Linked DNA regions of Homo sapiens. The protein of the gene in region 1 interacts with the protein of each later gene in a biochemical or structural test. Each region holds a gene or a part of one and is shown on either strand. Other genes may lie near its edges.

Region 1 (3,500 bases):
CATGCCATAATCCCAGCACTTTGGGAGACCAAGGAGGGAGGACTGCTTGAGGCCAGGAGTTCAAGACCAGCCTGAACAACAGAGCAAGAACCCATCTCTACAAAAAAAAATAAAACATTAGCCGGGCATGGTGGTGCATGCCTATAGTCTCGGCTGAAGGTGAGGTGACAGGATAGCTTGAGCCCAGGAGTCCGAGGCTGCAGTGAGCCGTGAGTATGCCACTGCACTCCAGCCTGGGCAACACAGTGAGATCCTGTCTCAAAAAAATAAAAACAAAAATAACTCCTATGAAAAACTAGAATTCTTAGAAACTCTGTTCCAAAAACAAGTAACAAAATAACTGAAAACAAATGAAAATCAAGTAAGTGGGCTTAAAGATCAAGCTTCAACACTCTCCCAGAATCCAATACGAACAGACAAGAAAAAAAATTTAATTAATGAAAGTTCCATAAATCCCAACTTCCACCTAAGTTCTTGAAGTGCAGTCCATAGGCCCTGGAAGTCCACAGTCTCTGGAAGTCCCTGAGACACTTTCAAGGAACCTTCCAGGTCAAAACTGTGTTTATAATATTGAAATGTCATTTTTCCCTTTTCCATTATATTTACATTTTACACTGATGTTGCAAAAGCAATGGTTGCAACAGCTAACACCTTTACAAGAACAAAGGCAATGCCTTCAAGCTGCAATAGTACCACTACATATTCCCAGGTTTATGTCTTTTTTTTTTTTTTTTTTTGAGACGGAGTCTTGCTCTGTCGCCAGGCTGGAATGCAGTGGCGCGATCTCGGCTCACTGCAACCTCCACCTCCCGAGTTCAGGCAATTCTCCTGCCTCAGCCTCCTGAGTAGCTGGGATTACAGGCGTTTGTGACCACACCGAGCTAATTTTTTGTATTTTAGTAGAGACAGGGTTTCACTGTGTTGTCCATGGTCTTGATCTCCTGACCTTGTGACCAGCACTTTGCGCGGTGGCTCACGCCTGTAATCCCAGCACTTTGGGAGGCCGAGGCGGGCAGATCACCTGAGGTCAGGAGTTCAAGACCAGCCTGACCAACGTGGAGAAACCCTGTCTCTACAAAAAATACAAAATTAGCTGGACATGGTGGCGCATGCCTGTAATCCCAGCTACTCAGGAGGCTGAGGCAAGAGAATCGCTTAAACCCGGGAGGCAGAGGCTGCGGTGAGCCGAGACTGCACCACTGCACTCCAGTCTGGGCAACAAGAGCAAACTCCATCTCAAAAAAAAAAAAAAAAAGAAAGAAAAGAAAGAAAATCTTCCTCCCTTTTCCAACCAAATACCTGTATAAGGCTGGATTTTCTTCATATACTTTAGCCAAAAGAACATACTGTAACAGATGGAGTGAAGAAGCAGATATGAGAATCGAGCTGTTTTCTATTAAGCCAAACATAAGAGACTTGCAAAAATATAAAACATTGCCACTATTTTTGCTATTTATTTTAGAAAACAATTATATTTTTATTAAAACAATGTTACACTAACATGCAATAGCTTATTTTCAAATAAATTAATTTTTTTTAATTTCTGTTTTGAGTCAAACCAAAAAGTCTGAGAACAGCTGCCTTAGGACTATTACTATTTCTTGTAATTATACCATATTATAACAGAGTGAATCCTCCTACAGGGAAATGAAATGTACAAGGCACTTAGCCTCAAAGTAAGTTGTCCCAGATTATTTTCTAAGTTATTCAGTCATCTTTCCATTTTTCTATTGCTTCACTGTAACACCACAGGTCATAACTTCACAATGCTGTAAACGTACCTTTCTCACGCCTTCTGGGATACCAAAGAACCAAAAACAGCTCATTATGTACATAAGTAAATGGGCTCTGAATAATAATGGCCCTAAAAGTGAAGTCCCCAGACTCTGTCATACCTGTTGTGATTAAGGAGATGTCATTTTTTATTTTCTAGTTTTTCTACTACATTCAATATGCTTTTAAAGCTATAATAAATAACCTCCAGATAAGTAGAGTCTTATTAAGTGAATTTTTAGATATTCTCCTTTTCTATCGTCTTCCACAAAGTGAATTTTTAGATATTCTCCTTTTCTATCGTCTTCCACACTATCACTTAAAGCCTGGCAAGACCTTCATTCAATGGTGTCTGGAACAAAATTTGAAGTGACAAAAATAGAGTGATAGAGTACTATTGTGCTTATTTCATGAAATCAAAGAAAGATAATTTCAAAATTTTAGGGATTCTGTGTCAGAGAAGACATCTAACTTGAAAGGTAGGACAGAAGAGGAAGGTACAGAGAAGAAGGAACAGAGAAATATATCTGTATGTTTTAAGAGGCCAAAAGTATAATAAAACAAGAAGGTAGAGAGGGTTACAAAGTCTTAATACATAAGAATAAATAACAACCTGGTATTATCTTAACAGTCAATTTTAAGAACACTAAAGAGAAAAAGGAAAACTGAGAAAACAAAGTATAAAACAAACAATGGCCGGGAGCGGTGGCTCATGCCTGTAATCCCAGCACTTTGAGAGGCCGAGGTGGGCAGATCACGAGGTCAGGAGATAAAGACCATCCTGGCTAACACGGTGAAACCGCGTCTCTACTAAAAATACAAAAAAATTAGCCGGGCACAGTGGCGGGCGCCTCTAGTCCCAGCTACTCGGGAGGCTGAGGCAGGAGAATGGCGTGAACCTGGGGGAGGCGCAGCTTGCAGTGGGCCAAAATCTTGCCACTGCACTCCAGCCTGGGCGACAGAGCAAGACTCCATCTCAAAATAAACAAAGCAATATACTGATGAATATAAAGTTAAAATACCAGCATGTACACTTAGTTGAAATGCAAAGGGGATATTCAGAATTAAATGGGCTAATAAAATAAGATCAGATAAACTTTTTCCACTGCATGTTTTGAACAGTTTTTTGAGGTGATAAACATAGACTAACAGTTTGGAAAAGAGGGAAATGGCAAAATATAATTAAGAACGACCAACTGAACACAGAGAAAATAAGGCTAGGTAAATGAAGCTAACTATAAATATAGGAAGCTAAGGGAATCAGAAGAGAAAGCTGAATAGCAGCTAAGTTTCTTTTTTACAATTAGGAAACCTAAGAAGAGACAGCTAAAAAGTGAATCTGAAAAATGGGAGTTAGCAGTAGGCCGGGCTCAGTGGCTCACACCTGTAATCCCAGCACTTCGGTAGGCCAAGGTGGGCAGATCACCTGAGGTCGGGAGTTCGAGACCAGCCTGGCCAACATGGCAAAACCTGTCTCTACTAAAAATACAAAAATTAGCTAGGCATGATGATGTGCGCTTGTAATCCCAGCTACTTGGGAGGCTGAAGCAGGAGAATCGCTGGAACCCGGGAGGTGGAGGTTGTGGTGAGTCGAGATTGTGCCACTGCACTCCAGCCTAGGCAACAGAGCAAGACTCCATCTCGAAAAAAAAAAAAAAAAAAAAGAGGAAAAGACAAAGACATCTTTAGAGGTTTATAATAGAGATGTATTCCCAGAAAAAGAAAAC
Region 2 (3,500 bases), on another chromosome or scaffold:
TCTCTCTTTTTCTCTATATATTTTTAACAACACCATATATATGTATATGGTATATGTATATGGTATACATGTGTATGGTATATGTATATGTATATGGTATACATGTGTATGGTATATGTATATGTATATGGTACATATATATGTATATGGTACATGTATATGTATATGGTATATATATGTATATGGTATATATATGTGTGTGTATATATACACATATATACATATATATACACACATATATATACACATATATATATGTGTATATATATATATACCTGATGCTGATTTCTTCCATTTTAGCACAATAACCATTAAATCTAAGGCAGGCAGTCTCTCTGAATTAATATTCAAATTAAATTTGCTCTGTACCATCACAGATGATTATTTTTAAATGCTCGCTTTTACTGATAAAAAGAACTGCCTATGCATAATAATTGAGATTTTATAACTGACCACATACCTCTTTTGAGGGGATTGTCTCCCTAGCAAAATTAAAGATCCTTCCAGAGTAACGGTGCTGACTTTGGAGTCAATGCATAATGAGGGAATGAGTATGTGGGGGAAGAGGAGGTAGAATGAGTGCTCAGTCAATTTCACTGAAATACCAGCACCCAACATCTTTGAAAGTACATTTCTTATATAAACACTTGTCTTTGCAGGGTTGCTTGCAAAATGTCCTATTTGTCTCTATCCCATCTAAGATTTTCTGTATGTATGTATATTTTGATTCAAAAGTTTATTCTATGTTTTCTCACTGCAATTATTTGTTAAAATAAAATGTAATTATAGAGCATAATCAAACTCACATATTGTGAATCCATAATCTTTTTTTATTCTTTTATTTTTGGGGGGACAGAGTCTCAGTCTGTTGCCCAGGCTGGAATGCAGTAGTTCAATCATGGCTCACTGCAGCCTCAAACTTGTGGGCTCAAGTGATCCTCCTACCTCAGCCTCTCAAGCAGCTAGGACTACATGCATGCACCATTATGCCCAGCTAATTTTTTAATTCAATTTGATTTATTTTTTTAATTTTAATTTTCTTAACTTGTTGTAGAGACATGGTCTCACTATGTTGCCCAGGCTGGTCTCAAACTCCTGGACTCAAGTGATCCTCCTGCCTTGGCCTCCCACAGTGTTGGGATTACAGCAGCAACCCACTATACCAGGCTATACATCTATCTTTTTATCTCCTACTCATAAAATAAAAGTTATTTTTCTCATAAAATAACTTATTTTTTCCATGTTAAATCGCAATGTTTTCATCTACAAAATGTTTGTATCCTTCTTGCAGTATTGTTCTCAGATCATCCTAAATATAAAATACGACTTGCCTAGCACAATACCTGTTGCCTATAAATGGAGCTATTATTATTTTTCCATAGTCAATATACTTTATGAGAAAATTTAACCAAAGTTCAAGTTTTAATTTCTAGTATAAATTTATGATTACTTTAAGAAAATTATTTATTAAATAATCATTTGCATGAAGTTATTGTTTTAAACCTTCCATATTCAACCTGAACTGTTTATTCATTCAGGGATTTCCATTTGTCAAATCATTTTATGAAACCCTGGGCTCAAATTTGAGGCAACGAGACCATCAGAGCTCTTTTGGAGCACAGTGCAAACACTCATGACATTATTGTACTTATAGTGCATAATATCTTCTTATTGTATGGGTCTCTGGAATTCTAAGCTCTCCCAAATAGCCTCTCTGGGCTAAAGCAGCTCCTGGTCTTGCAGAGCCATAGGGAACTCTCATACTAAAATTGCAAACTAAGTGTCTTTTAGGGATGTGGAGTAGTGTCGTTTGGAAGCATGTGTGCTGGGGCTTTCTTTGACTTTTGCTCTCCTTCCAAAATCTAATGAAACCTGGCACCAACTCACACAAAAGGCAGAAAAAAATCACTGTGAACTTCTGTGGCACAGCTTTGGCTATGCAGTGGAAATCAAGCTTTATTTAACTGTGTAATATTTAGTCTGGTTAGAGATTTGCTAAAAAGTGTATTTATTTACATATTCAAACAAATCATCTTTGGAAGCACAGGAGTAAATATAATAAAGTCCCTGATTTAAAAACTTTAAAAATATTAAATTAAACCATAAGCAAGTAACTTAGAGCACATGTGATGAGATATTTGAAAACACGATGCTGCCGGTTTAAGGGCTGCTAACTGCTGGGATGAAGCACGTGCCACGAGTCATCCAGAAATATTGAGTCTAACATTCTGTGCTCCGTGGGAATAAAACCAACCACCTACTTCAAGCTAGTCCCATTAGCTATTCTCAAAGAATAGCAAGTATCTATACTAATTCTGATAACTCTAATGTTTGTTTTACATCATTTTGCCCAAACACAAATATGATGAAAAATGTCATGATTTTGTTGTTGTTCAATAATCCAAAAAACAAAAATGTTACTTGATATTTTATAGACCAATATTTTGCGGGTGAAAATCCTTACCACATTTGAGGGCTCTAATTTCTTCCTTCTGGCAAGATCAGTAATGTTGACGCCATTGTAGTTGATGCTTTCCATGCAGCCTTTGAAATTCTTTCTACTGCTGGAGCTGGGCTTGCCAGAGAAAGGGATGCCTCCAAAGGTTATCTTTGAGAAAAAGAAATTAAATGTAAACGTCCACATTGTATTATGATGAACTAGACAAAACTATGAATACAGTGAAGGTCAAGTATCTATACCTCAACCAAAATATACAAATATTATAGCATTCTGCCTCCAAAATCTATGGCATATTAAATTATGTTGTTGTTGAAGTGTCTAATGGAGTCATTCATTCTGATAATTAGATTATAACTTGAACAAAAAAAAGCAATGATCCTTTGCAATTTTACTGCCCCAAAGGCATTTTATAAATTTTCTTGAGAATATTTTAAAAGATTTTTATTCAGCAAACTTCTTGTATCAAATAATATTAGAAATATATTTTTATGTTTATCATTCAAAGACATACTATCAATAAATGCCTCCAGTAAGCATGAGATAATCAGCACTAATTTAATAAGCTGATAAAACTGCAGCCCAAAGCAAGGGATATCGTATTTACCCTATGCAGACTTGTAGTCTAATGACCATTATTGTCAAAAATTCATTAGATTTATTTTGGATGTAGAAAATAGTTCAAAAAATATCATTACAATATTGATTAGGGACCACTTAGGATTTGGGAACTCAAAGTTGAGCTGTGTAGGCTTAAAGATATTATAGGTCTTTTAAATCTTAAGAAATAAGACAATGCTACTTACTGTGTTTCTCTGGCTGCTATCGCTTATAGAAAGAAAATATCCATTTCTTATACATTTTTGATCAATATACACTATAGCATTAAATTTATATGATACAAAATTGCATTTAGTATTTGCATGGTCAAGGATGATATTTACTATGAATAGTGAATTAGTAGTAAATGAAGCCAACCGCTAATTATAATATCAAGATATACAATACTTGTAATATATATCTTTTAAATTATCATACAATA
Region 3 (3,500 bases), on another chromosome or scaffold:
GCCCCAAAAGCCACCCTTCATTTCGATCACACCTTTCTGACATGGGGTAGAGCCCACGTGGTAACTACAGGAGCAACAATCAGTATTTATGCAACTTATAAATGGTTGATGCATCGACAGCTTCAAGTTTTTGTTTTATTTAAGAACTTGCAAGTTATGAACTGATTTCAAGCTAATACAGAAGTGTTCAGATGATAGCATAATGAATAGCCACGGGCCTACACCAGTGTGGTCAGATCTCAACATTTTGCCTTATTTGATTTACATTTTTGATTATTTGACTTACATGTAAAAGAATACATAATTTCTGATGCCACTGCAGCATCCTGTATACCCCACCTCAATTCCATTCCATACCAGATAGATAACTAGTATCCTAGTTTTGGTGTTTACCTCCAAAATGGTTCTGCAACCTTACTACATATGCATTTATCCAAACAACGGGTAGTTTGGGCTGTTTTTAATTTTATGTAAAAACTATCCCACTGTGTGCATTTGCAACTTGCTATTTTTATCTTTATATACCAGCTATGTAGGTAGATCTTGTTCATTTATTTTTCACTGAAGGTACAGAAGTCCATATATGAATATATCATAATTTATTATCCATTATTTGGTTGATGGATAGTTAGGTCATTTCTAATTATAAATGAAAGTAGAAATTTGTATACCTCTTTCCTTGGGCACCTTCATTCATTCTAAAGAGCAAGTACTTTTAGAGGCACCAGGATAGATGCAGTGATAGAAGAAACAGGTAAGCCCTGCCTTCATGAAACTCTCATATTATGAGTGACAGAAACAAATAAGTAAACAAATAAATATAATGTCAAAGAGGTACTAGAAGGACAGAGAAAGCAGGGAGGAAGGTGATGAAGCATGGCAGGATGCTGTGTTAAATATGGGCCAGTGAAAGCCCTTCTGAGGTCACGTACATGTGTGAGGAGCAAGCCACGTGCACACCCAGGAAACACCAGTCCAGGCAGAAGGATCATCAAGTGCAAAGACCTTGATGCAGATGTATGCGTGCCAACATCATTCAATGACAGCAAGACAGAGCAAGTGACCAAGGAAAAAGGTAGCTTGAAGTGAGATTGGAGATGGAGCCAAAGGCTACATCACTTGGGCTTTAGTCCTCACTAAGTATTTTAGATTTTATTCTAAATGTGTTGGGAAGCCTTTGGAGGGTTTCAAAGGGTGGAATAACATGATTAGATTTGGTTTTAAAAGGTTTACTCTGGCTGCTGTGTGGACCATAAATTGTAGGGCACTGAGTAGGAAGGAGAAGGCATTGCCTGGAGAGGGATGATGAAGGTTTGGATAGTCAGTAATGTTGGAGATGGTGAGAAGTGATTTATTTAGGATTTCTTTTGAGGCTGGATCTTACAGGTTTTGCAAATGAACCAGACATGATGTGAAAGAATGAAACAAGTCCAACATGAGCCCAGTGGTTTTGACTGGGTAAATAACGGTACTATTTTATAGGCTTTGAAAGGAACATATCTAGGGGTAGGAAGGATCGAAATATGTTGTATATATACATTGGAAATGCCCATTCAACATCCAGATGGAGAGTTCTACTACAAGTCTGTAGTGTAAGCTGGAGGTTAGGACTGGAGAGTTTAATAGAAGAAATGTAAAGCCATTGGCTTGGATGAGCTCAGGTACAGAGTGAATATAGGTGGAGCAGAGATCTGAGAACTGTGCCGCTCTGGTATCCAGAGTTTGGGAAATAGATGAGAGATTCTCTAGGGTACATACCTAGAAGTGAAAATGCTGGGCTGTATAAGAGGCATATTTTTCACTTTATAAACTATTGCCAAAATATTCCCCAAGATGGTTGTACCAATGTAGGGTCTTACCAGAAGTTTATAAGAATGGCTTTGTACTCCATTCTCACCCACACTTGAAAATGACAGACGTTAAAATTTCCATCACTTGTGAAATGGTCAAGCTACCCTTTTTAGATGTGTCAATGGTCACTTCATAGACCTTTAAAACTTAGAAGGAATTTGGAAATAAACAAGGACACACCTCAATCATGACATTTATCACACTGCCAAGGAATTGTTGAATCACTTGTCTTTCTCCTTGAACAGATCGCAACTGCCTTCAAGGCTGGGGACATTTCTTATTGTTTTGAATTCCTAGCATCTGGCACAGTGCTTGGCACCCGGTCAGCCCTCTACAAACTTCAAAGAATGAAGGTAGGGAAGGGAAATACTAGCCAAATTACTGCATGAGCCCCACCACCTTACAAGCAGGGAAACTGAGGCCCAGGAGGCCAGTTCCTAGCTCAAGGTCACAGGGAAGTGACAAGAATCATATCACCTCCTGCCAATGCGAAGTGTTAGATTTTCTACCAAGCTGTACCTCCCTTTGCTGTAATCATAAGCAATGTGAAATAAATTATGATATTCAGAATATTGACAGAGAGGGAAGGAATGAAGCATTCTTGCTTAAAATAGGTATCTTCAGCCATAGCAGAAAGTGTAAACTGTACAACTACAACTAAAGGGAAAACTATTGGGCTTGGAAAAATATCAGGGGTGAAATCATGGAGTGTAGAGGGCCAGGTATACCTAAAAAGAGGGTCCAGATAACATACAGACCATTCAACCACACTCACTGGCATTAGATACAAAGAAAAAAATAGATTTTAAAAAGGAGGAAACTGAGACCTTGAGATTCACGGACATACGGGACCTATGGAACTTGAACTTTCATCTCTTTACATTCTCCACTGAGACATAACGCCAAAGGCTCTAGCTCAGGTACCCCCAGCTCTCCCTCCCATGTTCCGCAGGCATTTCTCACTGCTGTGGGACTGATTTTAAAATTTCTCCCCATGCCTTTCCTTTGACAAATATTTGTGCGAACAACCCTTTGTTTCCAAAGCTTCTTTGAAAGGGACAAAGGTCCAGCAATTAGCTAAGGCGATTCCTGACTATTTAATTTCATATCAATTGTATTTATCTTTCATACCAGAGGTCAAATGAGGGTTACTGCACATCAAATCACGTATTAAATTTATTTGGCTTGGCAAAACAAAAGGGAGAAAAAGAAAAGGTATAAGTTTTTATATGACAAAAATTATTTTCAAGGATTGCAAGTAGAGACTGTATTGGTTGTTTTAATATTTCAAGCAATATGCAATACTAAAATCTAATACAAGAAAGTACATGGGGAAACATCACTATAATGTATTTAATAATACAATAAATGTAACAGTATACTTCAGTCAGGATTGACTAATTCTGATGAAAGGTAAAATTTATACGAACTTAAGAGCAGGAAAAAAAAATAGTCATCAATCCATGGCTCAGGGAGTTGCAAAGCATTTACAGATACCTTTAAATAAACCAAGGCTTTAAAAGTTGCATCTTTTCTTGTTTTTTTTTTTAAGTCCTTTTTTCATGTTTATTACCTTTTTTCTTCAAATCTTCATCAGGTTCATACATCTCAATGATCTGCATTGCCCTTTTGGCATCATAAAATGGAAA
Region 4 (3,500 bases), on another chromosome or scaffold:
TGCCCAGTGATGTATTTATATAAAATGGCAAGCACTTGTTGGTGACTGGAACTTAGGAACAGTGGGGCTGGCTGCTTCCCTGGGGTCTGAACCTATTACTGGATAACTCGGGGCAAGAACCCAGTGGACAGTGGGGCCTCATGGGATGGGGAAAGGAGAGCCAGTGGCTTACGGACCTCGTAGAGGTGCCCCTTGGCCTTTCTGGGGGTCTCGTCCTATCTGCTGAAGAATGCCCGTCTTGTTCTACTGTAATGGAAACTGGACATGTCCATCAGTAAGGGAGTGATTAAAGAATGATATTTGGCTGCTTTGCAGTGGCAAAGTGAAATCCACAATGGTGTACTGAATGGGAGTATCCCCACAGTACAACACTATTCATGTAGTGGAGGGGTGGTTGTAGAAAATAAACATAGCATGGGCTGGGTGCAGTGGCTCACGTTTGTAATCCTAGCACTTTGGGAGGCCAAGGCAGGCGGATCACGAGGTCAAGAGTTCAAGACCATCCTGGCCAACATGGTGAAACCCCATCTATACTAAAAATACAAAATTAGCTGGGCATGGTGGCGCACGCCTGTAGTCCCAGCTCCTCAGGAGGCTGAGGCAGGAGAATCACATGCACCCGGGAGGCGGAGGTTGCAGTGAGCCGAGATCATGCCACTGCACTCCAGCCTGGCGACAGCAAGACTCCATTTCAAAATAAAAGAAAAATAAAATAAACATAGCATTGGCCCATTCATTTGTTTATTGTATTTTCAAGTCAGGGTCTTGCTCAGTTGTCCAGCCTGGAGTGTACTGGTGCTGTCCTCCCACGTCAGCCTCCCGAGTAGTTGAGACCACAGGCGTGAGCCACCATGCACAGCTAATTTATTTGCTTATTTGTGTAGAGATAGGGTCTCTCCATATTGCCCAGACTGGTCTTGAACTCCTGGCCACAAGTGACCCTCCTGCCTCGGCCTCCCAAAGTGCTGGGATTACAGACATGAGCCCATTTCGATGTTGTTTTAAACTCTGGCTGGGCAAGCATGCTTTAATCCCAGTGCTTTGGGAGAATCCCATGAGCCCAGTAGGTCGAGGCTGCAGTGAGCTATGATTGAGCCACTGCTCTACAGCCTGGGCAAGAGAGTGAGTCCCGAGTCTGTGTTTCCAAATACACAGCAAGATGCGGGGGCCAGGTGCTCACTCCTGTGATCCCAGCACTTTGGGAGGCTGAAGTGGGAGGACCTCTTCAGCCAGGACTTCGAGAGCAGCCTGGGCAACATGAGGAACCCCCGTCTCTACAAAAAATTAGCAGGACATGGTGGCGCGCCTGTACTCCCAGCTACTTGGGAAGCTGAGGTGGGAGGACTGCCTGAACCAAGGAGGTGGAGGCTGCAGTGAGCCAAGATCACAGCACTATGCTGCAGTCTGGGCGACCCCTGCCTGAAAGAAAGAAAGAGAGAGATGAAGAAAGATCTGGAACAATATAAGTCACACTTGAGGGGGGAATGGTGGAAGTGATGCGGCGTCCAGGTTATTTATCCTCATTTGAATTTTTTATAAGAAAAATGTGTTTGCCGGGTGCGGTGGCTCAAGCCTGTAATCCCAGCACTTTGGGAGGCCGAGGCGGGCGGATCACGAGGTCAGGAGATCGAGACCATCCTGGCTAACACCAGTAGTGAAACCCCATCTCTACTAAAAATACAAAAAATTAGCCGAGTGTGGTGGCGGGCACCTGTAGTCCCAGCTACTCAGGAGGCTGAGGCAGGAGAATGGCGTGAACCCGGGAGGCGGAGCTTGCAGTGAGCCGAGATGGTGCCACTGCACCCCCGCCTGGGCAACAGAGCGAGACTCCGCCTCAGGAAAAAAAAAAAAAGAAAGAAAAATGTGTTCACCTACTACCTACGTAACAAAATTACAGTTACAAGACCATTTTAAACATCACACACACACACACACACACACACACACACACACACACACACACACACGGTAGACGTGTATGGTCATGCACAGAGTGAGATTTGGGGTCAGCAGTACACAGCTGCAATACCCCCTGCACCACATCCTGTCTCTGTGACTCAGACAAATTGCTTACCCTGCCAGACTTTGGTCTTTATAGCTGGAGATCAGCCCTTCTCAACCAGGGGCAGTTCTCCCTCCCAGGAGACACCTGGCACTGTCTGGGGATGTGTGTGGTTGTCACAACTGGGGGATGCTCCTGGCGTGGAGTGGATGGAGGCCAGGGACGCTACTCAGCGCCCTGCAGTGCCCAGGTCGGCCCCACCCCAGAGAGTGACCTGGCCCCGATGTCACAGTGGAGAAAGGCGGCTGCAGAGAGAGCGATGCTCCTGTGAGGCGTCTTCCACCAGCTCCTGAGGCTGCAGCACAGCGCTCCGCCCGCCCTCATCTCCGGGGAGAGGCTCTTTGAATTTTCTCACTAAACAAACATTGATTGCGGCCCCAGGAGAAACGAAGACGGAAGGAGCTGTGCTGGGGAGCAGGGGTTTTAGGGTTGCGTTTGGTGCGTCTGTTTGGTTTTCGCCACCCTGCCTCTTTCGAGTCGTTGGTCTCTTTCTGGTTTTTGTTTTTTTGAGACAGGGTCTTGCTCTGTCACCCAGGCTGGAGTGCAGTGGTGTGATCTCGGCTCACTGCAACCTTGACCTCCCAGGTTCAAGGGATCCTCCCACCTCAGCCTTCTGAGTAGCTGGGACTACAGGCGTGCACCACCACGCCCGGCTGATTTTGGTATGGGGTCTCACTGTGTGGCTCGGGATGGTCTCAAACTCCTCAGCTCAAGCATTCTTTTTGCTTTGGCCTCCCAAAGTGGTAGGATTATAGGTGTGCGCCACCACGTGCGGCTTTTTTTTTTTTTTTTTTTAATTGAGGAGTCTTGCTCTCTCGCCCAGGCGAGAGAGAAGTGGCACGATCTCGACTCACAGCAACCTCTGCCTCCCAGGTTCAAGTGATCTTCCTGCCTCAGCCTCCCGAGTAGCTGAGATTACAGGCATCCACCACCACGCCCAGCTAATTTTTTTTATTTTTAGTGGAGATGGGGTTTTACCATATTGGCCAGGCTGGTCTCAAACTCCTGACCTCAAGTGATCCGCCTGCCTCAGCCTCCCAAAGTCCTGGCATTACAGGCGTGAGTCACCGCTCCCAGCCCATGTCCGGCCTCATTTTAAGTAATTCTTTTAAGGTAGATTGATAAAAACTGAGAATAGAAGCAGCTTCCACCTGGCCCTGGCTCACTGGAGCTCCCGTCCTGGCACCTCCTCCTGGGCTGTCTGAGCCCTGGCCATACCTGCCCTCTCACCCTGTGTGTCTGCGTCTTCAGCCTGGAGCTGGTGGATGGAGTCACGTGTATGCTTTAGAGGTCTCAAAGCGTGTTGGGTTTTCTAGAACTGCCTTCGGCCTTTCTCTCCAAGCCTAGCTGGGCAGAAGTGGCCAGAGAGCGGCAACCCGGGCACCCCTGAGTCCCAGGATTTCTCCCCCGGCTCCTCCCACCCATGTGAATGAAAGCC

What was found. The genes of interacting proteins can lie anywhere in the genome.
Region 2: the proteins of ERBIN (region 1) and CNTNAP2 interact in a test that uses a peptide from one of them, tested with the Homo sapiens proteins (one large-scale study listed by IntAct).
Region 3: the proteins of ERBIN (region 1) and PLCB4 interact in a test that uses a peptide from one of them, tested with the Homo sapiens proteins (one large-scale study listed by IntAct).
Region 4: the proteins of ERBIN (region 1) and MAP2K2 interact in a test that uses a peptide from one of them, tested with the Homo sapiens proteins (one large-scale study listed by IntAct).

What each region holds. Positions count from the first base shown.
Region 1 is NC_000005.10:65,929,575-65,933,074, reverse strand, and holds part of ERBIN (erbin), read right to left. Parts: intron 1-3,500. UniProt on the Homo sapiens protein: Acts as an adapter for the receptor ERBB2, in epithelia. By binding the unphosphorylated 'Tyr-1248' of receptor ERBB2, it may contribute to stabilize this unphosphorylated state.
Region 2 is NC_000007.14:147,127,801-147,131,300, reverse strand, and holds part of CNTNAP2 (contactin-associated protein-like 2 precursor), read right to left. Parts: intron 2,609-3,500; coding exon 2,465-2,608; intron 1-2,464. UniProt on the Homo sapiens protein: Required for gap junction formation. Required, with CNTNAP1, for radial and longitudinal organization of myelinated axons.
Region 3 is NC_000020.11:9,380,087-9,383,586, reverse strand, and holds part of PLCB4 (1-phosphatidylinositol 4,5-bisphosphate phosphodiesterase beta-4), read right to left. Parts: coding exon 3,425-3,500; intron 1-3,424. UniProt on the Homo sapiens protein: Activated phosphatidylinositol-specific phospholipase C enzymes catalyze the production of the second messenger molecules diacylglycerol (DAG) and inositol 1,4,5-trisphosphate (IP3) involved in G-protein coupled receptor signaling pathways.
Region 4 is NC_000019.10:4,103,623-4,107,122, reverse strand, and holds part of MAP2K2 (dual specificity mitogen-activated protein kinase kinase 2), read left to right. Parts: intron 1-3,500. UniProt on the Homo sapiens protein: Catalyzes the concomitant phosphorylation of a threonine and a tyrosine residue in a Thr-Glu-Tyr sequence located in MAP kinases. Activates the ERK1 and ERK2 MAP kinases.